Homo sapiens: one gene and its partners. The protein of the gene in region 1 interacts with the protein of each later gene in a pairwise test. Each region holds a gene or a part of one and is shown in the gene's direction. Other genes may lie near its edges.

Region 1 (7,758 bases):
AATGAGAGAAAATAGAGTCTGAGTCTCTTTTCCGAATCTAGTCCAGGTATTACGCCCATTTTTTTCTTTTCTTTTTTTTTTTCTTTTTGAGACAGTCTCCCTCTGTCACCCAGGCTGGAGTGCAGTGGTGCAATCTCGGCTCACTGCAACCTCCACCTCTGAGGTTCAAGCAATTCTCGTGCCTCAGCCTCTGAGTAGCTGGGACTACAGGCGTGTGCCACCACGCCCTGCTAATTTTTATATTTGTAGTAGAGACAGGGTTTCACCATGTTGGCCAGACTGGTCTCAAACTCCTGACCTCAGATGATCCACCCACCTCGACCTCCCAAAGTGTTGGAATTACAGGCATGAGCCACCACGGCCGACCTTATGCCCATTTCTTATAGAAAAATATATTATTTCATTGTTACTGAAGAAATGTTTCACAATCCCTACCCCCTAGAAAAATTACCTACAGTCCCTCACTGAATACCTTAATAGAATAGTAGAGATATCAGTTTTTGGGTAAATCTTTACATCTGACTCTGGCATTTGGTAATTTGATTTTTAAAAGTTTATGGTAAATACCTTCTCCTTTTTCTATATGAAAAATGGTTGCAAAACATTCCATTTGGTACAGTAATTCTCAACCCAAGGGTAAGAAAGTTATCAAAATCTCCTAGTGGGGTTTTTCAATTGCACAGGCCATGCTTTCTGAGCCCTTGTCTGATTTATTTTTTTGGGTGAAGAACTCTACCCCCCCCACCGTAAACTTATGTTGATCATGAAAATGTTTTGTCCCTTCTTGAAGTTGTTGAACAGATATTTTATAAGTACAGTTGGTCCTCTGTATCCATGGGTTCTGCATTGCATTTCAAAAATATTGGGGAGCACAAAACAATGAAAAATAGCAACACAACAATAAAAAAAATACAGTATAACAACTATTTATATGGCATTTAAGTTGTATTAGTTATTATAAGTAATCTAGAGATTATTTAAACTGTGAGCCAGGTGTGGTGGCTCATCCCTGTAATCCCAGTACTGTGGCATTACAGTGGGAGGCTGAGGCGGGCAGATCATCTGAGGTCAGGAGTTCAATACCAGCCTGGCCAACATGGCAAAACCCCATCTCTACTAAAAACTAAAAATACAAAAATTAGCCAGGCGTGGTGTGTGCCTGTAATCCCAGCTACTTGGGAGGCCGAGGCAGGAGAATTGCTTGAACCCAGGAGGTGGAGGTTGCAGTGAGCCAAGATCACGCCACTGCACTCTAGCCTGGGTGACAGAGCAAGACTCCGTCTCAATAAATAAATAAATTAAAGTATATGATATGGAAGGCTGTGTGTAGGTTATATACAAATACTATGCCATTTTTTATAAGGGACTTGAGCTCGAGCATCCTCAGATTTTGATATCTAAGGGGAGGAGGGAGGTGTCCTGGAACCAATCCTCTGTGGATACCAAGGGACAATTGTACTCCTGGTACCAGGCACTGTTTCAGACTCTGGGAAATCCATAGTAAAACAGATACCAGCTCTGCACTCACAGAGCTGACATTCTAGACTCTAGAATCTATAAGGAAATGTATAATTAGGCACATAATAATAAGTGCTTTGAATAAGAATAAAGCAGAGTAAGTGGGGGGAGGAGTGCTATTTTATACATGGTATGTCTGATAAGGTGATATTTGAGTAGAGACCTGGGGTAAGGGAGCCAGCTATGCAGTAGTAAGGCATAGTGAGATAAGTAAGACAGAGAAAGCATCAGGTGGAAAAGCCCCCTAGTAGGAGTGTGCCGGATATCTTCAAGTCACAGAAGGAGGCCACTGTGGCCAGTATTCAGTGAACAAAGGTATAGCCATAAGAGGTGAGATCAGAGGGGGACTGGAGGCCCCCATCATGTAGGGCCTTATTAGGACACAAGAACAGCTCACCTTTACCTGAATGAGATGGGAGCCTTTGGAAGGTTTTGAATAGACATATAACATGATTTTGATTTAAATTGTACAGTAATCTCTCAGGCTGTTATGTGGAGAATAAAGTAGGTGCGCAAAGATAGATCTGGGAGACTAGGTGTCTACTGCAATAGTTCAAGCAAGAAATGATAGTAGCTATGAAAGTAATCAGTAAGAATGGGTGAGAATCTGACTATATTTTCCTTAAATATGTTAAACAAGAAGGTTGATAACACTGAATCATCCAGTCAGTGGATGAGCCATTCCACTAGAGTGGGTAAATTATTTTCCAGTTTTTTGTTCATGGTCGGTAAAAACAAGCCTCTGATTTTTGCCTGTTTTTTTGCCCATAGGTACCAGCATGTGTTACATAGAAATCTCATTTATTTGGCTACCATTGCAGATGCCAGTCCAACCAGCACTTCAAAAGCAATGGAATAATCTTTCAAAAGCAATAGAATAATCTTCCATTTGGCTGTCGTGAGGAGTAATTGAATGTAATCCATCTCTTACAAAATGGAGACAGGGTCTTTACCAACTCAACTGGTTAAAACATGAATGAAACCTCTGTGGCTCTTTCGAAACGTGAAAATGTGAAGAAAGCTACTAACTTAGCTGTATTCTCATGTAAATATTTTTTAAATAATTAAGCAAATCCCTCAATAAGTTGAGCCCAGGTGTCCTCTTTCCTGAACTTGGAGCATGTTTGGATAACAAAGACATCACTGGGATGTTCAAGTCTACTTTTTAGTTTCAACCTGAAGAGGAAACTCAGTAGGTGTTGGGCAGGAATTGGTGAGATTCCTGACTTGATACCTTGCTAAATGGACATGTAACTGTGTGCTCCTTCCTATCAGTTTGTAAATGTGGTCCCCCTGACTGCTGTTTTCAGATTGCTTTGAAATAAAGCTTATTTTTCTATAAAATACTGATGTGGAGGTATAGAAGTTTTCATGTAATAAGTATTCCATTTGGTTTTCAAGAATAACTGTGAGGACTTAACCATAAAGTATATAAAAACAATACTATTATCATTGCCAACAAAATGAATAGTGATTTCTAATTATTATCTAATATCATCTGATAATAGATGATGTTTAATTTTCTTCAGTTATCAGATAGTCTTTTTGTTGATTTGTCTGAACCAGAATCCAAATAAGATTCACATGTTGTATTTTGTTGATGTTCCTTTAAGTCACTTAAAGAATACTTAATAGTTCCTTTTTTTCTTTATTTGTTGAAATAACTAGGTGTTTACCCTAGAATTCTCTCGTGTTCTACATACAGTTGTATCTCTGTAGTGTTGTTAATTATGTGCCACTATCATCCACTTTTCCTGTAAACTAGTAGATCTAGAGGCTCATGCAGACTCATGTTCTAATATTTTTAGCAGGAATATATTAGAAGGTGATAAGTACTTGCTTTTGCATCACATAAGGAGTGACCTGACTTTTAAGTTCCCAACCAGCCTTTCACTTAAATTATGATCCACCCAGCTTTGATGTGGTAATTCATTAGGGATTACATAATGAGGATTTTCTAATTTATCATTCTTTCTGACTTTATTAGCTGTATTCTATAAAAAACTTTCACTCTTGGAGATTTATCTGAAAGATGAGGCAAAGGGATTCTTGTAAGTATATCCAAAATTAGAAGCCCAGGTCCCTGCTCCTTTTTTTGGAGTCAAGGGTTGCAACCTAGGGCAACTGTAAAATACATGTAAATAGTGAAGAGATAACTCATTTTGAATCCCAGCTCTATCCCTTAACCTCTGAAAGCTCTGTTTCCTCACCTCTAAAGTGAGGATAATGAAAATAGCATCTGCCTCCTGAGGTTGTGAGACTGAGATAACGTGGTTGAGAACTGGGCACATGTTAATCTATGTTAGCACTAATGTGCTGAGGGCTCTGGCTCTTTCTTTTTTCTTTTTCTTCTTTTTTTTGGTTTTGTTTTGTTTTGTTTTTGTTTTTGTTTTTTTTTGAGACGGAATCTCGCTCTGTCGGAGTGCAGTGGTGCAATTTTGGCTCACTGCAACCTCTACCTCCTGGGTTCAAGTGATTCTCCTGCCTCAGCCTCCCAAGTAGCTGGGATTACAGGCATGTGGCACCATGCCTGGCTAATTTTGGTATTTTTAGTAGAGACGGGGTTTCTCCATGTTGGTCAGGCTGGTCTCGTACTCACGACCTCAGGTGATCCACCTGCCTCAGCCTCCTAGAGTGCTGGGATTACAGGCGTAAGCCACCGCGCCCAGCCGATCATTTCTGTTTTCTAGAAAATTATTTTGTCTGTTTCCCCACTAGCATTCCTGATGGTTTTCCAGAGTCCTATCCCCTGAAGTTCTAATTGCTGGCATAATCACACTCTAAAAGGCTGAACCCCAGAATCATTACCTGAAAATTCGTACTACCAGTGGTTCTTCTTCATGATAAATCATGGACAAATTAAGCCTGAGTTTGTAAACTCTTTGGATACCAACTTTCTACCACTCTTGGAAGAGATGGAGGAGGTGTCAGTCATTTTGGTTGATACTAGCCCTAGGCCTGCCTTGTCCCAGGAGTTTCTTCACCTTAATCACAGACCAAATTGCATACTTTTATCTTCGAATCATCTAAAATATAATTTCAAATCACAAGACAGAATAAAATAATCTTTGAGAGAGGCAGAACCTTAGAAAGGAGATATTTTATCTCATTTATTTTACAGATGAAGAAAGTAAACTTCAGAGAGATCAAAGTGATTTGTCTCAGGTCACATAACCAGTGGCAGAAAGAAGAGAATTGCTGGAATGTCAAGATAAGAATGAATTCTAGGTTTAAAGTTGTTTAAGTATATCCCAAATTAAATATTTCATTCCTGAGCTCTAAAACCTATTTACATTGAAGCCTGATGTCCTAAACACGGTAATTACAAAGCTGGGTAATGGTCTCCATCCTTTCCTTTCATGAATCCATGTATGAAAGTTAGCTTTATCAAACTATTTCATCTCCAGAAAGGCATGTACATTTCATACTGTTCAAGTCTGTAATTGTCAGCAAAATCAGACCCAAGACCGCTAGCTTCTCAATTCAGCCTACAGACTGCTCCTCTAATAGACACACTGGACTCTCAGGGAGGTAGAATGGGCAAGCTCTAACAAAGGACAGCACTTCTGTGATGGTGTGGAAGTACCAAAGGTTTGACTGTACTTTAAAAAGGTGACATGGACGGCTGGGTGCAGTGACTCATGCCTGTAATCCCAGCACTTTGGGAGGCCAACGCGGGCAGATCACAAGGTCAGGAGATCGAGACCAGCCTGACCAACATGGTGAAACCCTGTCTCTACTAAAAATACAAAAAAATTAGCCAGGTGTGGTGGCGTGTGCCTGTAGTCTCAGCTACACTGGAGGCTGAGGCAGGGGAATCGCTTGATCTCAGGAGGCAGAGGTTGCAGTGAGCCAAGATCGTGCCACTGCACTCCAACCTGGGCGACGGAGCGAGACTTTGTCTCAAAAAAAAAAAAAAAAAGGTGACATAGGTGCAGAAACAGGTCAGAAATGATCTAAGTCAAGCTTGTCCAACCCGCCACCCAGGGGCCACATGTGGCCCAGGACAACTTTGGGTGCAGCCCAACACAAACTCATAAACTTTCAAGAAATATGAGATTTTGTTGCAATTTTAAGCTCATTGGCTATTGTTAGTGTTAGTGTATTTTATGTATGGCTGAAGACAATTATTCTTCCAATGTGGCCCAGGTAAACCAAAAGATTGGACACCCAATCTAAGTGAGCCCAATTTCCAAATTTACTATAAAACTACATTAATTAAAACAGTGTGCCACTTCACATCCATTAGGATGGCAATAAAGAAAACCAAAAAATAACAAGTGTTGGTGATGATGTGGAAAAATTGGAAACTTTGTGCACTGCTGATGGAAATGTAAAATAGTGCAGCTATGGAAAACAGTATGGTAATTCCTGGAAAAATCTTAAATGGAATTAGCTTATGATCCAGTGATTCCATTTCTGGGCATATATCCAAAATAATTGAAAGCAGGTTTCAAAGAGGTATTTGTACACCCACATTCATAACAGTACTATTTACAACAGCCAAAAGGTAGAAGCAATCTAAATATCCACTGACATATGAATGGATAGACAAAATATGATATACACATACAATGGAATATTATTCAGCCTCAAAAAAGGAAATTCTGACATGCTACAACATGGATGAAATGGAAGACATGCTGAGTGAAATCACCCAGCTACAAAAGAACAAATTTTTTTTTTTTTTTTTTTGAGACAGAGTCTCGCACTGTCACCCAGGCTGGAGTGCAGTGGCGCAATCTCGGCTCACTGCAATCTCTGCCTCCCGGGTTCAAGTGATTCTCCTGCGTCAGCCTCCTGAGTAGCTGGGATTACAGGTGCCTGCCACCACGCCCTGCTAATTTTTTGTATTTTTAGTAGAGACGGCGTTTCATCATGTTGGCCAGGCTGGTCTCGAACTCCTGACCTCATGTGATCCACCCGCCTCAGCCTCCCAGAGTGCAGGGATTACAGGTGTGAGCCACCGCACCTAGCCTACAAGAACAAATATTACATGATTTTACTCACATATGAGTAGACAAATACTAGAGTAGACAAATTTACAGAGAGAAAGTAGAAGGGTGGCTGCCAGGAACTTGGGAAAAGAGGGAAATGGGGAGTTACTGTTTAATAATACAGAGTTTCAGTTTTGCAAGATGGAAAATGTTCTGTGGACGGATGGGAGGTACTGAGGGTTGTACAACCGTGTGAAATACAGTTAATGCCAGCGAACTGTACACTTAAAAATGGTTAAAATGGCAACTTTCACATAATGTGTATATATATCTATAGATCTATAGATATCTAGATATCTGTAGATCTATAGATCTATAGATAGATTTTTTTTGTTTGAGACGGAGTCTCGCTCTGTCACCCAGGCTGGAATGCAGTGGACCGATCTCGGCTCACTGCAAGCTCTGCCTCCCAGGTTCACGCCATTCTTCTGCCTCAGCCTCCCGAGTAGCTGGGACTACGGGCGACCGCCACCACGCCCGGCTAATTTTTTGTATTTTTAGTAGAGAAAGGGTTTCACCGTGTTAGCCAGGATGGTCTCGATCTCCTGACCTCGTGATCCGCCTGCCTCGGCCTCCCAAAGTGCTGGGATTACAGGCATGAGCCACCACGCCCGCCCATGTAATGTGTATTTTATAGTTTAAAAAAAAAACTTATAAAATAGTGTGGTACTCAGACACAGATCATTGGAACAAAAATCCAGAAACAGACCCACACATATATGGTCACAAGGCGAAGGTAATTCAATGTATAAGAGTCTTTTCAGGCCGGGCGCGGTGGCTCACGCCTGTAATCCCAGCACTTTGGGAGGCCGAGGCGGGCGGATCACGAGGTCAGGAGATCGAGACCATCCCGGCTAAAACGGTGAAACCCCGTCTCTACTAAAAATACAAAAAATTAGCCGGGCGTAGTGGCGGGCGCCTGTAGTCCCAGCTACTTGGGAGGCTGAGGCAGGAGAATGGCGTGAACCCGGGAGGCGGAGCTTGCAGTGAGCCGAGATCCCGCCACTGCACTCCAGCCTGGGCGACAGAGCGAGACTCCGTCTCAAAAAAAAAAAAAAGAGTCTTTTCAACAAACGGTAATGGAACGACTGTATATCCCAATAGGAAAATGTTGACACTTACTTGACAACATAAGCAAAAATTAATGATATTAGATCATATCATAGACTTACACGTTAAAGACTATGTAAAACATATATGAGAACACAGAATATCTTCAAGAACTTGAGGTAGGCAGAGATTT
Region 2 (10,672 bases), on another chromosome or scaffold:
TCTGGGTCCTAGTTTGAGAAAACGCCTCCAAAAGGATCTACAGATGGTTATTAAGAAGCTCATGAACCCCTCCAATTGTAGGCAAATTTGCATGTGGGGGTGTGGGTGCAGCATATGCCTGGGCATGCATATACGTTTTTTTTTTTTTTTTTTTTTTGAGACGGAGTCTTGCTCTGTCGCCCAGGCTGGAGTGCAGTGGCACGATCTCGGCTCACTGCAAGCTCCGCTTCCCAGGTTCACGCCATTTCTCCTGCCTCAGCCTCTCAAGTAGCTGGGACAACAGGCGCCTGCCACCACGCCCGGCTAATTTTTTTATTTTTAGTAGAGACAGGGTTTCACGGTGTTAGCCAGGATAGTCTCAATCTCCTGACCTTGTGATCCGCCTGCCTCGGCCTCCCAAAGTGCTGGGATTACAGGTGTGAGCCACCGCGCCCGGCCGTATATATGTTTTTATGGCAGGAAGGGCCATAAGATCCATTTCCTAAAAGTTTAAGAAGCTCTGCTTTAGAAACTATAGCTCTGGACCAGGGACTTAAGGGAAAAAATGACTTTAAACCATTGATTATAACGCCCTTCTCTGCATCTGTTGATAGGTCCTACAACCACTGTTAAGAAAAGAGAACTAGGCCGGGCGCAGTGGCTCATGCTTGTAATCCCAGCACTTTGGGAGGCCAAGGGGGTGGATCACGAGGTCAGGAGTTCGAGATCAGCCTGGCCAACATAGTGAAACCCCATCTCTACTAAAAATACAAAAAAAAATTAGCCAGGTGTGGTGGCAGGCACCTGTAATCCCAGTTACTTGGGAGGCTGAGGCAAGGCAGGAGAATGGCTTGAATCTGGAGGCAGAGGTTGCAGTGAGCTGAGATTGCGCCACTGCACTCCAGCCCAGGCAACAGCACGAGACTCTGTCTCAAAAAGAAAAAAAAAAAAAAGAAGAAGAAGAAGAGACCTTGGTGGGGCACAGTGGCTCACGTCTGTAATCCCAGCACTTTGGGAGGCCAAGGCGGATGGATCACCTGCATTCAGGAGTTCAAGACCAGCCTAGCCAACATGGTGAAACCCCATCTCCCCAGCACTTTGGGAGGCCAAGGCAGGTGGATCACAAGGTCAGGAGATTGAGACCATCCTGGCTAACAAGGTGAAACCCCATCTCTACTAAAAAAAAAAAAAAAAAAAAAAAAAAATTAGCTGGGTATGGTGGCAGGTGCCTGTAGTACCAGCTACTCAGGAGGCTGAGGCAGGAGAATGGCGTGAGCCCAGGAGGCGGAGCTTGCAGTGAGCCGACATGGCACCACTGCACTCCAGCCTGGGCGACAGAGCAAGACTCCATCTCAAAAACAAAAACAATAACAAAACAAAAAAAAACCCATCTCTACTAAAAATACAAAAATTAGCCAGATGTGGTGGCACACACCTGTAATCCCAGCTACTTGGGAGGCTGAGGCACGAGAATTGCTTGAACCTGGGAGGTTGCAGTGAGCAGACACTGCACCACTGCACTCCAGCCTGGGCAACAGAGAGAGACTCCACCTCAAAAAAGAGAGAATTTGGCACTTGGCAGGGTTTGTAAAATGAGAAGGAACCTAAGGGGCCAGTCAAGACGCAAGACTCTCTGGGAAGCAAGTTTATGCGCCTACTCATCTTATGTTTCCATAATCTCTATTGTGTAGCCGACTTTCAGGGACTGAGAGGCAGTAATGTAAAAAGCAAACTGCTGCTTTCCTAATAGCTCCTCTACTGAAAGCCAGGTTGGTTCTGCACTAAAGGGTTGAGTTGGCTCAAAATTCTACATTGGCCCTGAGAGAGGGGTGATCCAACCAAAATAGAATTGATCCTCATAATGATAGAAGTGGATATTTTTCCTTTTTTTTTTTTTTTTTTTAACCAGAATTCAGTAATCAGAGGTAGAACTAGAACCCTAGCCCTGGCAACCCAAATCTAGCCTTGGGCTGTGAAAGTTGAGAGGCCCTGGAAGCACACCTGGCTCCAGTTTTCCTTATCTGTAAATGAGGGGATTGAACTGAATGAACTCCAAGGGCCTTACAATTCCCATAGGAGTCCTCTATTTTGATAGAAGGCCCCTCTCACCTGTAGTAGAAATGCACAGGGCTGAGGTGGCTGACTGTCGGCATATAGGAATAGTAGAAGGAGCCATAGAGGAAGACAGACACCCAGAGCAAAAGGAGGATGGTGCAGAAGAGCACCCCAAACTGCAGCAGCAGCCTGCGGGCACGGCCTGCCAAGACTTGGCCCACCTCCTGGGCCCACAGTAAGGCAGGTACTGGAGGGTCGTTGACCATGGCCGGGAGAGCAGGGTGTCTGGCCCCAGGTTCAGGCCTTGCGTTCCTAGCTGCTCTGCCACCTGGACGCCACCCCTGGCCATGGGATGCAGCAGCTGGTGGTTCCTGGAAAGAGAGGGTGAGGGAAAAGAGTGACTCCTTTCCCCAGGGAGGTGGGGACAAAACAGCTTACTGGACTGGCTTTGAGGAACGAGAGATAGCAGGATAGCAAAGTCATTGTTTCATATATATGGCCTTTCTCCAAATGATTGTGCCACTCTGCCAATTACCCCTTCCCTTTCCTCCACTGTGTTCCCTCCCGCCCAGTGCTAAATCTCCTCAGTGGAATTCCTTCTCCAGTCATTTGATGCTGGGACAAACCACCTTGATTCTCATTCACAGCTATATAACAAAGAATAAGCACCTTACGATTCTTAGAAAGAGCTTTACACACACGGTGATACTGAATCCACACTGCTAGGCAGCTGCACGGAGAGAATGTGCGACTTGCCTAAGGTCGCACGGCCTGACTCGAAACCAGTAGCCTTAGAGTAGCCACAATTGCTTCCCGAGTTTCTCCTCTCCGCCTCGAGCAGAGCTCGCTCACCGACACGGCTACACCCCACGCCCGGCGGAGCGCCCTGCAGCCAACCGCCGCTTCCCGCCAGTCCCCTCCAGCTCGGGGGTGGGCAAAGCGCCCGGAGCCCCTACCTAATCGTGCAACCATGGAAACCAGCCCGCCGGCTGCCACAGGGCTGCCGACTCACCAGCCTCGCGCGCTGCCAGGGCAACCGTGAGACGGGACTTCCGGCTCCCGGGGAAGTCCCGCCCCTCTCCGCCGGCCGCTTTTGTAGCCGTGGGAGGCGGGGCTTCAGCCCAGGGCGGGGTCCAGCACGGCGGGGCGGGGCGGGACGGGGCGGAGCCTTCCCGAGCTGCGAGGTCGCTGTCTCCTTGCGCTCGCCACTGGCTCTCTCTGCGGCAGGTTTCCCTCCGGTTACCGTGACCAAAGGGGAAAGACGCCTGCCTCCCTGCAGGCCCCAAGATGTGCCCCAGGGGATGCGCTGACTGCAGCCTCCGCTCGGCTCTCCCTTGAGACTGCAATCACAGCCCTCCGTGCACACCTTCACCACAGGCCATTTCACCCGCGAAGCGGCCGAGTGAGGCGGTCATCCAGCTGGCGCTGATTTTTATCGCCCACAGCTCCTAGGACCTGTAGGCATCTAAGGCGGGGGCATTCGCCTAGAGCATGTTGCAGTTTGCGGCAACCTGGGCCTCTTGCGTTGTTGCGCAGGCAGATTAGTGCCCTGTTCCCAGCGTGGTAGCATTGTGGACCTCCTCTGACCCTAACTGGATACACTCTCCCTCAGAGTCCCCACAGCACATTATCTAGACTAGCTTTTGGCAGTCTTCTATTTTGTAGACGTCTAATCACCCCAGATAAAGTCCTTCAGAGGCAAGGCCAGTGTTGTGTACATCTTTGCACACTGCTGCGGGCGTGGGAAGTAATCTATTCAAAATGAATGAAATTCTTAAAACCAATCCATCCCCCCGCCCCCTTCACGCCAGCCCACCTATTTCCAGTATATTTCTGCTGACTGTCCCCACAAGGGCCCCTACCTCCTCTTTGTCCGGTCCTTTGATCTGGTCTCCGCACACCTCTTTTTCCCCAGCTTCCTCCTTTTGGTCTACCTTTTCTGTAGACATCTTCCTGACGAGCCTCTGTTGACTCTGGATCTTCCACTGAGTCACTTGTGGCTAAAACGTGAAGTGGCGATCCAGACGCTGATACCTGTGGCGCATCACATTTTCCTGGATATGGAAAATGGAGGGTCCCTGGGAGAGAAACGAAGATTCAGGTGCTAAGTGCTGTGTCAGAGTAGAGGGAGGAAAGGAGGAGGGGGGCGACTGCCCAGCTGATGTCAGATTTTCAAATGAGCAGGGTCCCCCGCAGCCAGTACAGACTCCACTGCAGGGGCCGTCATAGGCCCAGACCACGCCATTTGAGAGGGGGAGTCGGCCTTGGCCTCAGCTCTGTTGGGGAGGTCTCTAGCCCAGAGTCAGGATGCCTGCAATGGGGGAGGGGCAGGCAGTGAACTAGCGACAGTGGGGGTGTGCGCAGGGATGCAGGCAGCTAGGCTCCCCCACTGGCCAGGCAGTTGGTATGCTCCAGGATCTGAGCAGCTCCTTCTAGCATCCTTCATCCTTCAGGTACCAGCCATCCAGACAGTGCTTGAGCTGCAGAAACTGAGACCAGACCTCTGGCCTGGCCCTCCCCAGGGGCCTCCTTTCGTATAGTCACTGCTTCTGCATCAGATACTTTCAGCTGCAACTCCCTACTGGGTGGGGCACCCATTTCAGGCAGAAGGTTTTGGTACCCTCCACTGACCCTACACCCAGGGCTGCTACTGCCGCTTGTGGCTTCAGGTAAGTAATGGCCTGTTTTTCTCCTGTTGGGGCTCACTGGAGCAGACAGGGGTGATGTGCCCTCCTCATCAGGGTTGGTTGAGGTCTTCAGAGCTGGGAACACACATGGTTTGAAGGGCTGAAAAGCCTTAAATCATTTGTGTAAGGTTTAATGATCTGTGGCCCAGGCCATGAGGGAGTTTGGGGAGCACCTCATCCCACCCTATTTTTTTCCATGAGGAATACAGGGATGAGACAGTCCACTGGAGGAGGAGGAGGAGGATAGGAGGGGAACAAAATATTGGGGTATGACCACAGCCTTGTAAAGGTTGGTGTGGAGTGAGCATGGAGGGGGGCCTCCAGCTGAGACTGTGCTCTGAGAGGTCCCTCTTTTTTCCAGGATGAAAGGTGAGACCCCGGTGAACAGCACTATGAGTATTGGGCAAGCACGCAAGATGGTGGAACAGCTTAAGATTGAAGCCAGCTTGTGTCGGATAAAGGTAGGTGGGACCCTGGCTGGCTCCCATTAGTTGGCCAGGCTGTGCTGTGCTGCAGGTTCCCAAAGCTCAAGATAAGAGATGCGTTCTTTCCTTCACTCCCTGAGGTCAGGGGAGGAGTCTGGGGCTCTGTAGAGAGAGCTGTCCCCAGGCCTCTGGGGGGGATGAGGGAGAAGACAAGTCGTAAGGAGCCCTGGAGATGGCAAAAGAGAACCCATTTGGGGAGGGAGGCTGCAGTCCCCTTCAGAGGTCCTGGCTAACAATACCCTTCCTGGCTGTGTCCCAGGTGTCCAAGGCAGCAGCAGACCTGATGACTTACTGTGATGCCCACGCCTGTGAGGATCCCCTCATCACCCCTGTGCCCACTTCGGAGAACCCCTTCCGGGAGAAGAAGTTCTTCTGTGCTCTCCTCTGAGCTCCCCTGTCCCTTCTCACAACTCCTCCCTTTTCCCTCTCCTGGGCCCTTCCTTAGGTCAGTAATTGTTGTGAGCCCCTTAGGCTCCTTGCATCCCATCCCTAACCCTTGCCTGACCATGTGAGGTTATCTGAAGCACAAGGCCCACCCTCACCTATCTGTCGACCCCATTTCCTACCACCTTTGTGGCCGACCCCAAGCACCCCAGAGATATGAGGCACCCTTTGCTCCACCCACAGCAGGGCCCCGTCAGACTCTGCCAGCGCGTCCTGCCCGCTTCCCTCGGTGACCTGCTCAGACAATGGAGAGGGATGGGCCAGGTTCTTGCTCTCAGTCTCACCTGGAGCTACTGGGAGGGTAAAGCCATTTGAAGAATAAAGTCATCCAGAGCCTCAGGACAGCTCCTGTGTTAGAATTCTTGGGGGGAGAGGATCATCAAGCAATAGATCTGCCATACCCAGGGAAAAGGGCCAATCAATGCAGGCTAGACATCGTCAAGGATCGGAGATCAGAGGGGTCGGGGGATGGCGGGCGCGAGAGAGCGTCCACAGTGTAAGAATTAAGTACAAAAGACGCTCAAGAGGCTGCGAAGAGCAAACACACACACACAAACGTGCAACGAAGCCAAGTTAAAAGGTAAACAGGCCGAAGAGGGGGGATTTAGGGGAGGGTGCGGGAGTGCAGTCGTACAGCAGAGGAACTCTTAGGAGGGTAGGGGCGGAGCTTGGCTTCAGTTACCGCGACTGGAGCCGATTTTATACCTAAGATGGCTGCGCCCACAGCCACTCCCATTCCAAGATGGCCGTACCAACATGGCAGCCCCCACGTCACGGAGTTTACCGTACAGGGCTTCTCTTAAAATGGCGGCCCCCAGGCAACCGGCGTTCTCAATATGGTCCCTTCCGCCCTCTTCTGGTCTCAAAATGGCTGCCCCTGCCCTAACCAAGCCGGGGCCCGCGCCCTGCAACCCCGAAATCTGGATTTCGGTGTCCTCCCGATTGAGTCGAAGGCACACGGGCGGCCATAACGAAGAATCACTAAACAAGGGGACCCCAGGAAGTACAGCGTGGCCGACGCTGGTCGCGTGGATCTTGCGAGGGAATCTAGGTTTCTACATTTTGCCAAGAAAGGAGAGGCTCCCTTTGGAGCGGAAATATTAGCGGCAGGGGGTTAACCCCCGACCCTGTCCGTCTCGGTGCACCGCTCCTCAGTTGCTTCCTGGTCTTCCCAGGAGCTGGATAAGCCTGAAGTTGCTCAGTTTGGGTTTCCTAGTAGAACTGGGGCTTGTTTTTGCTTTCATTTTCCCCTCAGGCCGATTCAGCCACAGCAGCCAGAAAGCAGTGGCCGCACCCCTAATGTGCCTTGCAAAAGTCCAGCATGCTGTCTGGGCAGGGACCAAACTTAAGGCTTAACATGTCATGGTCATCTCCAGGACTCAAACATGGCGGAGGTTTACGAACACCAGAATGCCTCCTAGAATCTTTTCCTTCCAAGGGTGCACAGAGGCGAGATGGGACCAGGGACAAGACAAAGAACGTAACAATCCCAGTACGTGTGCTCCTGCTAGAGGTCCCCTAAACTCAGGGACGCATCCTCCCCAGGAAAAGCCTAGGCTGGCTCCTGTTTTGTGCCTGGATATACTTCGGGAAGGGAGGCTGCTTTGAAATAGTAGGGACAGCTCATTACCTCCAGCTTCCAGGTATCTTTGCACAGAAGACAGCAAAGTGGATAAAGGAAACCAAAGGAAGAAAGGTTGTTATCACCAGCAACTGAACTTAGCCTCCTAAGGATATCTTCATGAATTCCAGGGACACCCAGTGAACTTGGGTCACCTTAAGGTGTCCCAAGCAACTTTTTACTGTTGATGGAACTTCTGAGCTCTAAGAAGTCCTGGAGATCTTCTAATTAATTCCCTCATCCTAGAGATGAAGAAACGGGAGAAGTTTGCCCTCCTGGAGTGGGACCCTACCCCCATTCTGTTGCGGAGGAGCCTCAGTTCCTTCTTGGCACGGTGAAAATTCCAGGAAGGATCAATCAGGTCAGGTCCGTTTTAATCCCTGTATCCTGATAATGGCACATATCAGGCACCCAAATACCCAATGAATAGATTGTACTGTACATGCTTAAATGGCAAATGTGGCATGGCAGGGACCAAGCACCTTGCCTCCCTCACCCCCACTGTATCACGGTGTTGGGCAAGTTCCAGGGGAGTAAGTGAAATTTTCCACAACAGCTCAGACATGGTTAAATAAAAAAAAAAAAAATTAGAGTGTTTAATAAATGTAACCTTGATTTTTAAGAAAGCCTCTTTTTGGCCGGCCGGGCGTGGTGGCTCATGCCTGTAATCCCAGCACTTTGGGAGGCCGAGGCGGGCGGATCATCTGAGGTCAGGAGTTCGAGACCAGCCTGGCCAACCCGGTGAAAACTGTCTCTACTAAAAATACAAAAATTAGCCGGTGTGGTGGCGGGTACCTGTAATCCCAGCTACTTGGGAGGCTGAGGTAGGAGAATCACTTGAACCCGGGAGGCAGAGGTTGCGGTGAGCCGAGATTGTGCCACTGCACTCCAGCCTGGGCAACAAGAGCGAAACTCCGTCTCAAAACAAAACGAAACAAAACAAAGCGCCTCTCTTCAATTTTTCTGCACACTCAATGTTCCTACCCATCAGATTATAACTGCGTGGCTACAGCGCTAGGTGGGAAAATGGGGTTTAAGCAGTAACTAGAGACCAGGCATGAGCTATGATTAACCACTTTAAAAAATGATTAATTAGCTCTAACAGCAACTTAAATGTCCTAAAGAATAGATGGCTACCAAAATTAAGGGTGGCCTTCAGGGTACAAAACTGTAAACCCGGGTATCTGAATCCGTGTCACATACAGAGGGTAGGAATTAGAGCAGTATCTACATCAATACTACTACTCCTTCAGAACACTGGATGTCATGAGCCTGTGGTATCTCAGCTTTAAGACCCTGACCATTTATTAGAAACTGCCGTTAGGATCATTTCAGTGCTAATAATGCAATGGTGGCTGGGAGCGGAGGCTCACACCTGTAATCCCAGCACTTTGGGAGGCTGAGGCAGGCAGATCACGAGGTCAGGAGTTCAAGACCAGCCTGGCCAATATGGTGAAACCCTGTCTCTACTAGGAAAAAAAAAAAAAAAAAATTAGCTGGGCCTGGTGGCACACATGTGTAGTCCCAGCTACTCGGGAGGCTGAAGCAGAAAAATCGCTCGAACCCAGGAGGCGGAAGTTGCAGTGAGCCGAGAGCGTGCCACTGCACTCCAGCCTGGGTAACAGAGCGAGGCTCTGTCAAAAAAAAAAAATAAAAATAAAAATAAAAAATAAAAAAGCAATGGCGCTGTTGTAAATTTAATTTACCGTCTCGTTCTCCAGATTCACTGGAAAATAACCCCCATCAAACTTCTGTTGAATGAGTGGGCTTTCCCCCTAGCAGTAATTATTCATGAATATACTTATTTGGCTCCACAATGTACATTTAACTTCAAGCATCCAACTAGTTTTTGCATAGGCCAAATACAGAGGTCGTGAGTTATAATTTATTTTCCTATACTTCAATGGCTCGACTCTTGGCCTAAGCAAGCACTAAATAGACTAATAACTACCCACCCATGTCAACTGACTGCATGGCTGGCTCCCAAGTGAAGGCATGGTAGAATAGGGAGGGAACGGCAGCCACCATGCAAGAGGAGAGTCCTCCTTGGTTGGAGCCCATGCGACCTGAGAAAGAGGCATTAAAAAATGAATAAATAACCCAGTGACACCCTCCGCCCCAGTCAGTGCAGCCACAGGAGATAGGGTGAATTCAATCCAAATGGTTATTTATTCTAAAACTGGAAGCTACTTTGCCTACATTTTCGCCAGAATGGTGTAATGAGAACAGGGGAGGAAAAAGTTACAGATGTAAACAATGACACAGTTACATTTTTTTTTTAAATGGTAAAACCCCTTTTTACTGGCCACTTCCAAGAATGCTTTACAGGTTGTGCAAAAACATTTACAGGCTCCATGTGGTGTTTTTCTCACAAGCTTTCCTGTCTACAACTACAACAGACGTCTGATAAAACACTAAACAAGTCTTCTAAGGAAAACAAGGCTAGGGATTCCTCTGGTTACCATAATCCACATTTTCCCCCTTAACATAGTTTTTCATAATAAAAAGACAGAAACAAAACCCGGACATCTACTGTTGTTGCAAATGATCTCTTGGACTAAACCAACAAGGATGTGGCAGTTTCACTTTCCACCCACCTAGAAAAACAGTTTTGTAAAAAAGATTACTTTCTAGTGTCAAATATCAACAGCGAGTACCTCCCCTAACCCCTGCTGGAAAAAAACTCAACTTGATTTAGTTTAGTCCCCTTGCCCCTAAGGGCCCTAGCATCCCCATCCATGTCACAGACTACAAGAAAGATGCTATTTGCAGGACTAAACATCTGAAAAGGGGTGGCAGCCACTGCCTCAGGAAATTCAATTTTCTATTATAACATAATCTTGCCCTAAGGGAATTTCTTTGGGCTCCAGTTTTTACCTCCTTGCCTTGACATTATAAGCAAAGCTTTCTCAAACTCCCTTAATAATAATACAAAGTTAATGTGTTACAGAAAAATTCATGCAATCACTCCACTGCCACACAGAAATCCATTTGAGGACACCGCAGGGAAGCAGGTGCCAAGAGAAAGGACATGACTATGAGTAAGCAAACTTATCTCCTACCAGCCCCATTCCAGCCTTGGGGTCAGAGGTATTTGGGCGGAAGGGTGTGTCATGACAGACAAGGACACTAGAGGCCAGAATAAGGGTCTGTACACCTGAACAAGGGCTGCAGGGCAGTAACAGTGGGAGGAGGAGAGGAAGACCAAATCAGCCCACAATTTTAAACAGAGAACTGCCCAGGTGAGGAAATGGAAGTGAAGCATTTTCTAGTGGCACAGATTTTCTCACTAGGAACTGCTGCAGTATGTGGTGTCTGCTGAGTAAGCTCTTGGCTGACAGTGCTGAGCAGGAGGATGAATGAAAACTGAAGCTAGACATTGAAAGAGCATTCCATATCCC
Region 3 (11,181 bases), on another chromosome or scaffold:
ACAGCCTGCAATTGCGTTGCTCAATTAATTTAAAAAAGAGGCCACCTTATGCTAATAATAATGATAGCTGTGGTGGTTTTTACAAAAAAGAGATGGGGGCCATGTTGGGAGAAAAGCTGAGTGTTGGGAGAGAAGCTGAGGCAGGGCTTGCATGTCTGCTAGACGTGTTGGCTCCTTGCTTCTAGCACTCCCATTATCTCAAGCAGCCATGTTTTTCATTCACTTGATACACTGTTTCCTTTCAACCCCCACATCCTCACCACCTGTTTGAGCATCAATAAATAGCGTGGGCTCCCAGAGCTCGAGGGCCTTTGCAGCCTCCACACTTGCGATGGCCCCCTGGTCTTACTTTCTCTCTCATACTTTTTCTCATTCCTTTGACTCTGCTGGACTTCATTGCCCTCAAGACCTGGTGTTAGGTCTTATCACCCCAACAATGACTCCCTGCTCTATGAGCTGCAGAATTGATGTTGTGTTATCAGGCAAGGAAACACATGAATCTCCTTGTACATTTTCATCAGAGCTCTGAGATGACTAGATGAATTGTCAATAAGTAGTAGTATTTTTGAAATAAATCTTTTTTTTTTCTAAGCAGTAGGTCTCAACAGTGGGCTTACAATATTCAGCAAACTATTCTGTAAACAGATGTGCTGTCATATAGACTTTGTTGTTCTATTTAAACAGCATATACAGAGTAGATTTAGTATAATTCTGAAGGGCCCTAGGATTTTTGGAATGGTAAGTGGGGTAGCTTCACTAGCTGCGTCAGCCCCTAACAAGAGAGTCGGCCTGTTTTGTGAAGCTTTAAAGTCAGGCATTGACTTCTCTCTAGCTATGAAATTACTAGATGGCATCTTCTTCCCATGGAAGGCTGCTTTGTCTATATTGAAAATCCATTGTTTAGTGTAGCCACTTTCATCAATGATCTTAGCTAGATATTCTGGATAACTTGCCGCAGCTTCTCCATCAGCACTTGCTGTTTCACCTTATGCTTTCATGTTAGGGGCATGGCTTCTTTCCTTCAACTTCATAAACCAACCTCTATTAGCTTCCAATTTTTTTTTCTCCTGCAGCTTCTTCACCTCTCTCGGCCTTCATAGAAGTGAAGAGAGTTAGGGTCTTGCTCTGGATTAGGCTTCTGCTCGGGGGAATGTTTTAGCTATCTTTAATCTGAACCACTGAAACTTTCTCCATATCAGCAACAAGACTGTTTTGCTTTCTTATTCTTATATTCACTGGAGTAGCATTTTTAATTTCCTTCAAGGACTTTTCCTTTACATTTACACTCTGGCTAACTGGTACAAGAGGCCTAGCTTTGGCCTATTTCAGCTTTTGACACCTTCACCTTCTTCACTAAGCTTAATCATTTTTAGCTTTTGATTTAAAGTGGGAAACATACAACTTTCACTTAGAGGGACTTGTAGGGTTATTAATGGTCTATTTTCAATACTGTTGCACCTCAGGGAATGGGGAGGCTGGAGGAAAGAGAGATGGAGAATGGCTTGTTGGTGTAACAGTCAGAACACACACATTTATCAATTAAGTTTGCTGTCTTATCTGGACACGGTCCATGGCCCCCCAAAACAATTACAATAGTAACAACAAAGATCACTGATCACAGGTCACCATAATGAATATAATAATAATGAAAAAGCTTGAAATATTGTGAGAATTACTAAAATGTGACACAGAGACACAAAGTGAGCACATGTTTTTGGGAAAATGGCACTGATAGATTTGTTCAATGCAGAGTTACTTCAAACCTTCAATTTGTAAAAAAAAAAAATGCAGTATCTTTGAAATGCAATGAAGTGAAGTGAAATAAAACAATGTATGTCTGTATGTAGGAGTAGGATTATTGGGCTATATGGTTAGGTGTATATTGAACTTTATAAAAGTGGCCAAACTATTTTTAGTGCGGACATACCATTTTGCACCCTCACCAGTGTGGTATGAGAGTTTCAGTTGCTCTGCAGCCTCATCAACACTTGGTATTGTCAGGTTTTTTTTTTTTGCCATTCTAATAAGTGTCTAGAAGTTATCATTGCAGTTTTAATTAGCATTTCACTAAAGACTAATGATATGAGTATCATTTCATGTGCTATTTGTCACCCATATATCTTCTTTGGTAAAGTGTTTGTTCAAATCTTTTGGCCATTGAAAAAAATTTGGTTGTTTTCTTATTGCTGAGTTTTGAGAGTTCTTTGTATGTATTAACTACAATTCCTGTGTCAGGTGTATGATTTGCAACTATTGTCTCCCTGTCTATTCTTGTCTTTTCATTCTCGTAACCGTGTTGTTTGCAGAGAAAATGTTTTAACTTTTAGAAAGCCCAATTGATTTACTTTTTGTTATGTATTGTGCTTTTTGGCTTTGCATTTTCAACCTTCAATTTTTATATATTAAAAGTAAAATTTCTAAAAAAAGATTTCCTCCTAGCAATAGCAGATTATCTACATGTATGTAAATAATAATTACCTATATCTCCTAAATGTGAAATTAAATAAGACATTAGACAATTTGTGCAGAAAAAACAAATTAAAGTTAAGAAAGATGAGACAAGGATCTAATAATTTTTAAAACACGGAACTAATGTCTTTTCGATTTTGGATAATAGTTGCATGTAGACACATGAAATAAAATGCCTCATGGGGTTTCAAATACCCATTCATTTATTTACCCATTCATTTTAGAATATTTACTGAGCACCCACTATAAACCAGGCACTGTGTTCTACGTGGGGGCATATGGATTCATATGATGGGACAAAGAACTTGCAATAAATAGATCAATGGATAACACAATGTGGTAAGAACTGTGATTGACATATATTCAAAATGAACCAGGTTTCTTTTTTTTACATGTGGTAGTGTCATCATGCCTATCTCAGTATGAAATTGTTCATGTGACTATTTGATCTAAAGTCTTTCTCTCCTACTCAGGTGATGGGTGCACTACAATCTGACTTCACCACTATACAATTCACCCATGCCAAAAACCACTCGTACTTCCAGAGCTATTGAAATAAAAATATACATTAATTTAAAAAATCAGAAAGGGCTGCTTTTAAAATAATCAATAAACAAGGCTGGGCATGGTGGCTCATGCCTGTAATCCTAGCACTTTGGGAGGCCAGGATGGGCAGATTACCTGAGGTCAGGAGTTCAAGACCAGCCTGGCCAAAATGGTGAAACCCCATCTCTACTAAAAATAAAAAAATTAGCTGGGCATCAACAACTCAGGAGGCTGAGACATGAGAATCACTGGAACCTGGAAGGCAGAGGTTGCAGTGAGCCAAGATTGTGCCACTGCACTCCAGCCTGGGTGACAGAGTGAGACTGTCTCAAAAACAAAAACATGAAACAATAACAACAAAAAATAATCAATAAACAGATCTGTAGTGAGAGCTGGGCAGGTTGGGAAGGTGCAGGGTGAGACCACCTATGGTAAATGTGAGCTGGCAGACTCAGCAGGGGTGAAACAGAGGATGGCACTCAGCCATGTTGGGCAGGGGTGAGAAGGAGAGGGCTTAAAATAAATAAATAAATAAAGTGCGTCTCTCTCTTCGTGCACTCCAGGAGTGTAAATACAATGTATGTTTTCTTCATCGCGTCACTTTGCTCCAGCCTGGGCAGCAGAGTGAGACTCCGTCAAAAAAAAAAAAAAAAAAAAAAAAAAAAGCTTGCTTCTGATGTACAGAAAGAAGGCGTTGCTTAATTCTGCCCCGGGCAGTTTCGAAGACTTGATTTTTAAAAAGGTGGTATTCGAAGTGAATCTTGAAGCAAAGATAGGAACTTGCTGTTGGGGCAGGAGAGAGTTGAGAAGGAAGAGAAGCACAGCATTCTAGCACTATGAAATCTTAGACATGGGTGTGTGAAGGTCCACGGACAGGCAGTTGTAGGTGGAGCAGAACCATCCTGCCTGCGGAACTGTGAGGACAGAAGATGAGACCAACGTGGAAAGCTGGGAACGGACTGGGAAGGAAACGCCTTGCCAACCAGGCTCCATTTGAACTTCCTCACAGTGGGGTTGGAACTGAAGAATTTTAAGCTTGAAAGTGACATGATTACATTAGTGATTCTGAAATAGAGAGGGCAGCGTGTGGTCGACTGGAGAGCAGAGCAGTGAAAGCCTGTTGCTGAAGCGCTGGTAAGGCATGATGAGGTCTGGCAGTGAAATAGAGATGCTGGGAGGGATGGATCTAGAAGTCATCCTAGGAGACAGAAACACAGGACTGGGCGATTGACAAGATGTGAAGGGAAAAGCAGAAGGAAGATTTAACATTTTCGCTCTTCTGATGCCTGAGGAGTGTTGTATGTTGGTAGTCAACATTTTAAAAAAATTTTTAAATTAATATTAATGTTCTTTAGAAAATACCGTAAAGTATAAAGAACAAGAAAACCATCCATTATCCCAACACGCAGAGATAACCACTGCAGACATTTCATATGCATATCTTTCCAGCCTTCTTTGAAAATATATTTCTGAAAAGAGATCCTAAGGGTTCCATCTCTACCAGGAACTCGGCTCTCATAAACTGCATTAATACGTTGAACTTCACTTTGAACCCAAATATGAATATTTTCACTAAACTATGCACCGATTTTTTTTAAATAAAGTGAATAAGTACATGGACCGGAACTGCCAACTGGAAACTAAATGAGTGTCAGCAGTGACACCCGGGACATGCCCTCATTAGTAGATGCTAACCCGCAGAGGTAACCTGCCTAGACACGGAGAGACATTTCCAAGTTCAGGTTGATTAATTCATATTCAATTCATTCACCCTGCTGAGCCCTGCAGGAAGACAGCGCGGCAGCGATCTCCACCTTGAGGGGGCGCTAATTATTTTTTGCCTACTTGAACCCTGAGCTTGGGCAAGCCTGTGCACATACACTAAGAGAAAAACTTTCTGAGGTCTAGCAGCTGTCGATCAAAAATAGGTTATCCTAGGCCCTTCCAAATAGAGGGACTGGGGAAGGAAGTTTAATTTAAAAAAGAGTAAGAATGTTTTTATGTTGGGATGGATAGATTATTGGGAAGGCAGGGTGATTCAGGAGAGGCCTGAAAAAATGCTCCAGGGGTAGAAAATCCAAGGAGAAGGTGGAGGGGTCTCAAAGATCGACAAATAGCCACATGGCGGGCCGCCCTTACGAAGGTAGCCTTGCAGGCCAAGTTCGGGGGGAGGTGGGGAGGCTGGTTCCGAGTTTCCGGGCATATCCGTGGAGTCCTTCCAGACCTTCCTGGGGACCTTCCCCGGTCACCCCGGCTCCCCGCCGGCCCCCCGCGCTGCTCAGGGGAGAGTAGGACTATGACCCACTTCCACTCTAAGGCTCTAGATCGAACCGTCCAGGGGGGTCAAACACGATTTACAACAAGGAAGAGAAAAACCAATACGTCCCAAGAGGGCTGCAGGGGCTTTAACTGGAGGAAGGGTTGGGCAGAGGGTGGCAGTATTATGCCCTGGACTTTTTTGCACCAAACCCATAACCGGATTCCCACTTCCTAAGACCTGCCTTCCTGGCTCTTCCCACCGCCTCCATGCTCCGCCCCGCAGCTTAGGTCTTTTACTGCAAACGTCAAGTGGTCTCCGCCTTCCCTGGGTTCGGAGCTTCACTTGCTCTTGAGCTCTGCGGTCCGGCGGATTTCGCGGGGCCCAGGGGATGGCGGGGAGTGAGATTTGGCCAGGGTCATTTCACACTGCCGGGCCTGCAGCCACGCACGCAGCTGCTGGCCCGGCTGAGGCTGGCGGCTAGGGAGAGGCGCCAGGGGGTCGCGCACAGGAAGGTATCGGTGCACCCTGAGCAAACACTGCTCGCTTCCAACGCTCACTGGGAACAGGCTTCCCGGGAAGGTCCCAAATCTCTCCAGTTCCGCTCACCCTGCGGGCGGGAGCGCGGCGCCCGGGTGCCCCACCTGCGCCGGGCGGTCGGCTCCCGCTGGCCGGAGTTTGCAGACTTGGCGCTCAGGCCGATTCTCCCGGAGTTGGGCCGCGCGCGCCGGGCCAATGAGCGCGCCCCGCGGAGGGCTCCGCTCCCCCCGCGCGCGCTGATTGGTCCCGCGGCCCTCGAGGCCGGGCCGGCCGCGGCTGCGGGCGGCGGCCAGTGCCCGGCGCGAGTGGGAGTGGCGCGCGCGCCCCTAGCCGCCCCCCGCCTCTCCCCGCTGCGCTCCCTCGCTCCTTCCCTGAGCTCCCGGGCTCCGGCAGCGGGCTGGCGGGGCGCCGCATTGCACACTCTGGGGGCGCCGCAGTGTTCGTGGGATGGGGCAGCGGGCTGCAGCTGGCGGCCGGAATCCGCGCGCAGCCCGGGTGAGTAGAGGCGGGCTTCCCGGGAGAGCACAAAAGAACAGGGGATTGGTGCCAGCGGCCCCGGCTTAGGCGGGGCCTGGCCAAGGCAGGGAGTGCGCTGAGTCCCTGGAACTACCCGATGCTAGGGCAGTCCCCTGGGGCCAGAGGAACTGGGGTCCCGGCCTCCGGCGTTTTGCCCCTAGTGGGCAGAGAGCCCCGCGAGTAGCCTGGACGGGTCCAGAGGGGCGTGTGTACTCGTGTGTGTTGGGCTGGCGCGTGGAGGGTGGGATGGAAAGGTCAGGAGCTGCCAAGTTCAAGGCTGGAGGAACCTTTCCCAGGAGTAATTCAGCATCTTCTCACGGCCCAACATGCGTCCACCAGGAACTCCAGCCGGAGGGAGTTCCTGGGCGGCGGACTGGCAGCACCCCACATGTTGCTGCGGGGCGGGGGGCAGTGGCGGTAGCCCGGCTGCGGCCACCCGGAGCCTCTAAGGGAGGTGCAGTGTGCTGGAGGTACCTCCCCGCCGCTGCAAGACCACGCTAGGCCTTTCAGCCATCCACCCCGACAACCCAGGGAAGGGACCATCCACCCACAGAGTTGGGATTTGGCCTGGGCTTGACTTGGCGACCTGTTTTTCTCTCCGGTAACAGCAGTTCCGTTGATTCACATTTGGCTAAGCGTTCAGTTACAACCTAAAGCTCACTATCTGACGGTCTGACTCGCTCTGACCCCCACCATATCCTCACTATCTCTACCGCTGCCCTCCTCCAGTCCCCTCTCCCGCCCCAGTATCTGCCCTGCTCCTCACTGCGGGGCTCAAAACTTGGTGTTTGAGCATGATTGCCTTCGGTGTGGTCCTTGGCATTTTCAAGTGTCACAATCACATCCCGTTTCCTAGAGGACTCCAAAGACTTGTTATAATGGGATCGGGGGAGAGAATTGGGTGGGGGGGAATGGAAGAGGGTCTTTGGTAGTCACTTGTTGGAAGAACAGCATTGACCTCCCAGAGCATATGACAAAAAGAATGTTAAGCTTCTTTCTATGGTAACCTACCCAAGGTGTGACCTCCAAAATTCAATTTTCTTTGTGGGAGGCAAGGGAGTTTAGATTCTCCAGGGGGAAGCTTATTTCTTGTTAAATTGACTTGCGGTGACATACACACTGTTCTGCTCTGCTCTGGCCAGCCATTGCAGATGCCATGATATTATTAGAGCAATTCCCTTAAAGCCATTACATTTTCTTTCGAGTGAGAGGAACTCGAGCTAGCTGTTTAAAATTTTGGATCTGCACCTTATTTCTCTAGAAGACATTAATGGTTACTGTATATGCGCTCACGTGTACCAAGTTTGCAAAAGGTATTTGTGCAATCGCCCATGAAATGGGTTAATGCACATTTATGTTAAACCCATTTAAATGTAAAACATCTATCTGTTTTCAATTTTAGTTTCCACCTCGACCAAAGGCACCAGACTGAAATAAGACTTAAAAGAGGCTTCCTTGTTTAAATAGAGGTTTATAGAACTCTAGTCCTGAGAGCACACAGTAAGCTTTCTGAGCTTGTAGGCACACAAAGCTTGTTAAAAATTGTGAAATGGTTCCTTGAGTTAGAAATAATGGAAATGCTTCCAGACCAATTAAGACAGACAATTGATGAAGCTACACTCTCAAGCTGTTGACAGTCTTTGTAAGGTGAATGTTTATAGTACATAATGCATAAATCGGGCTGATTCTAGGCAAATAATATCAAGTAAAAAACCATACCATGTGTTGTATCATACTGGATAGTTTATATGGCATATTGAAATCTACTATTAAAGTGTCTGAGGAAATCATATCTTTATCATCCCCATTTCACAGATGAAACAACTGAGGCTTTCAAAGATTGACTTTTCCAAGATCAATAGCAGAGTTCAGTCAAGTGTTTTTCAAATTCTTTCCTACCTCACCCGTTCCCTTCCTTCCTTCCTTTTTGGTGTTTACCTACTTCTTTGTTGTTTACCTACTTCTGATTTCTGCACCTCTTTTTACTGTTTAACCCATAGCTTGAGGGACCATTGTGAATCATCCCCAAAAGGCTTTGCTGTCTGCTCAATATCATTTAGCTCCCACTAAGGTGAGGGCTGATAAAGAATTAAGGTGAAAACTAGGAATAGTTTTAAAGAGCTACCCTTTTCAAAGAGATACGTTATTTTTGCTAATGAGTTGTTAAAGGTACATATAATCAAACCCCTAAAGGATGATGTCCTAATTGTAATGTTTCAGAAAGACAAGTAACAGTAGGAGAGATGTGTGAGAAATATGTAAGTCTCCTATTTTATAAACACACTCCTTATAAGCTCTGTAGACGATTAACAATAGAAATAATAAATGAATATCTCATTAGTGCTATTCTTATTTTAAAAAGAATTGACAAAATAGATGACTTAAATAAAATCAGAACTACTCTGGAAACACAAAAAGCACCCACTTATCAAAAGTCCTGAAATCCTCATTGACTAGTGTACAAATGTAGCAGAAGACATTGGTTAGAGAGAAATCATATTTTTACTTGCAAAGCTAGCAATAAGAAGCGTACAGATATCTGCCTATCTGATTATTTTTTAAGGGCTCATCATCTGCAAATCTTTTCTTGGAAAATGATTGCTTACAATATTTACTTGTGTCATTGCATACTATTTATTAATGAGATTAATCTCATTTGCAATAACGTGGTTAAGTGTTGAGCTTACTACTAGTAAGTCTTGGTTAAGTATGTGGGCTTTGGATTCAAGTCTTGTCTTCACATACACTAACTGTGGGACTTCAAAAAATGATAGAACTTCTCTGTGCTTTAGTTTTCTTATGTGTAAAGCATGAATAATGCACCTACCTCATGCAGTTTTTAAAATTTATTCATGCAGCAAATATTCAGCAATTGCCTATTAGGTACCAGCTCTGCTCTAGATGCTAGGGATACATGTGCAAACTCCTTGCTAATGAAGTTTACCGTCTGGTGCCTGAAATCTAATGACACAATGCATTTAAAATGCTTGGGATGGGACCTTACACCTACCAAATGCCCCGTTATTGTTAGCTGTTGGTATCATACATTCTTTCAGGAACTGTTCAGAGTGCCTACCAGATGTAACACAGATTGCAGCATGTAATGATGAATGATATGTGTTTCAATTCAATTAAGTCTTCTAATGGAAGAGGGGACTCCAAAGAAGGACATCAAGAGTATAATCAGTCTCTAAAAGGGAATTCAATGCTGATATGTTAGGGAAGAAATGAAAAGAAATACTTAATTTACCCATAAGAAAGTGGGAAGCATACGAATTACCTTATAGAAACCCAAAAGTGATAAGAAAAACAAGTCTTGTACCCAAGCTCTGTAAAACACTAAACTCATAGTGAAAACACATAGGGAAAGTAAAGAAAAGAAAAAGAAAGCTTACCTGGATACATGTAATGAAAAAGGAAAATTTGAAGGGTCAGTTTATTAAATTGACCTTATGAAGGGCAACAGATCCCAGGCATACTAGAAATGGGATAACCAAAAGTGAATTTGTTAAAAAAAAATCCTTGCAATGGATTTCCAAAACGATAATGAAAGTCCCTTAAATACTGTGAAATAAGGATTGTGGAACTACTCATCTTTCATCATACCAAACATGTACTGGGAGATAAAAAGAGATAAAACAGCGTGTAAATGAATTCTTTGCTTCTGTTTTTGCTGAGTAATATTCCTACACCCAGGCTTTCTCAAGCAATACACACATTGGAGGTAATAGATCAAGAAGTGGCAAGTGCTGAGGATATTCCAGACCTAATCAGCAGACTAATTACAGATAAATCACCAAGACTAGATGGCCTTCACCTAAGTATATTGAAGAAGCCTGGTGTGTACGTGACAGCAATCTGGGGTATTGCTGGGGGATTGACTGGTGTCCTTGGGGGCTCCAGTCAGGGGAGGGGTTTCCAGAAGGACTGGGGGCCAAGAAACCAGACCCGTGTCCCTGTGGATGATTGGGAGATGGATATTCAAAGTAAACACAGATTACAGCAAGTAACGATTTTTTTTTTTTTTTTCTGAAGAAGGGGGATTGACGTATTAGAGTTAAAAAAGGAAAATACAGTCATGCACCTCATAACAATGTTTGGGTCAAGAATGCACTGCTTATATGATGGTGGTCCCATACGAGTATAGTGGAGCTGAAAAATTCCTATCACCTAGTGACATCTTAGCTGTGGTGATGTCGTGGCACAACACATTACTTACCTGTGGTAATGCTTGTGTAAACACACTTACTGTGTTACCAGTCTTAGAAGAGTATAGCACGTACAATTATGTACAGTACATACTACTTGAGAATGATATTAAACACCTATGTTACTGATTTATGTATTTACTGTTAATGCAATTTATCATTATCTTAGAGAGAACTCCTACTTATTTTTTTTTTTAAAGTGAACTGTAAACAGCCTCAGGCAGGTCCTTCAGGAGGTATTCCAGAAGAAAGCATTGTTATCATAGGAGATGTCAGCTCCATGCGTGTTATTGCCCCTGAAGACCTTCCAGTGGGACAAGATGTGGTGGTGGAAGACAGTGATATTGATGATCGTAATCCCGTATAGGCCCAGCCTAATGTGTGTGCTTATGTCTTAGTTTTTAACAAAAAATTTTAAAACATGTTTTCATTTAATAGAAAAAAAGCTTACAGAATAAGGATTTGAAGAAAATAAGTTTGTACCATGTGTTTGTGTTTTAAGCTAAGTGTTATTACAAAGGAATCAAAAAGTTAAAACATATAAAAGTTTGTAAAATAAAAAAATTACAGTAAACTAAGGTTAATTTATCATTGAAGAAAGAAAAAATGTTAAAGTAAATTTAGGGTAGCCTAAATGTAGTATTT

Evidence for each region.
Region 2: the proteins of SS18L2 (region 1) and GNG3 interact in binary tests that used the Homo sapiens proteins (3 or more experiments, as listed by UniProt).
Region 3: the proteins of SS18L2 (region 1) and LYPD6 interact in binary tests that used the Homo sapiens proteins (3 or more experiments, as listed by UniProt).

The regions. Positions count from the first base shown.
Region 1 is NC_000003.12:42,592,133-42,599,890, forward strand, and holds the end of SS18L2 (SS18-like protein 2), read left to right. Parts: intron 1-2,289; coding exon 2,290-2,377; 3' UTR 2,378-4,802; downstream 4,803-7,758.
Region 2 is NC_000011.10:62,703,213-62,713,884, forward strand, and holds GNG3 (guanine nucleotide-binding protein G(I)/G(S)/G(O) subunit gamma-3), read left to right. Parts: upstream 1-4,463; 5' UTR 4,464-4,703; intron 4,704-5,082; 5' UTR 5,083-5,083; coding exon 5,084-5,182; intron 5,183-5,465; coding exon 5,466-5,594; 3' UTR 5,595-5,989; downstream 5,990-10,672. Other genes in the region: BSCL2 (seipin), read right to left, coding at 2,089-2,405, 3,897-3,983. UniProt on the Homo sapiens protein: Guanine nucleotide-binding proteins (G proteins) are involved as a modulator or transducer in various transmembrane signaling systems.
Region 3 is NC_000002.12:149,324,416-149,335,596, forward strand, and holds the start of LYPD6 (ly6/PLAUR domain-containing protein 6 precursor), read left to right. Parts: upstream 1-6,171; 5' UTR 6,172-6,307; intron 6,308-6,805; exon of another isoform or gene 6,806-11,181.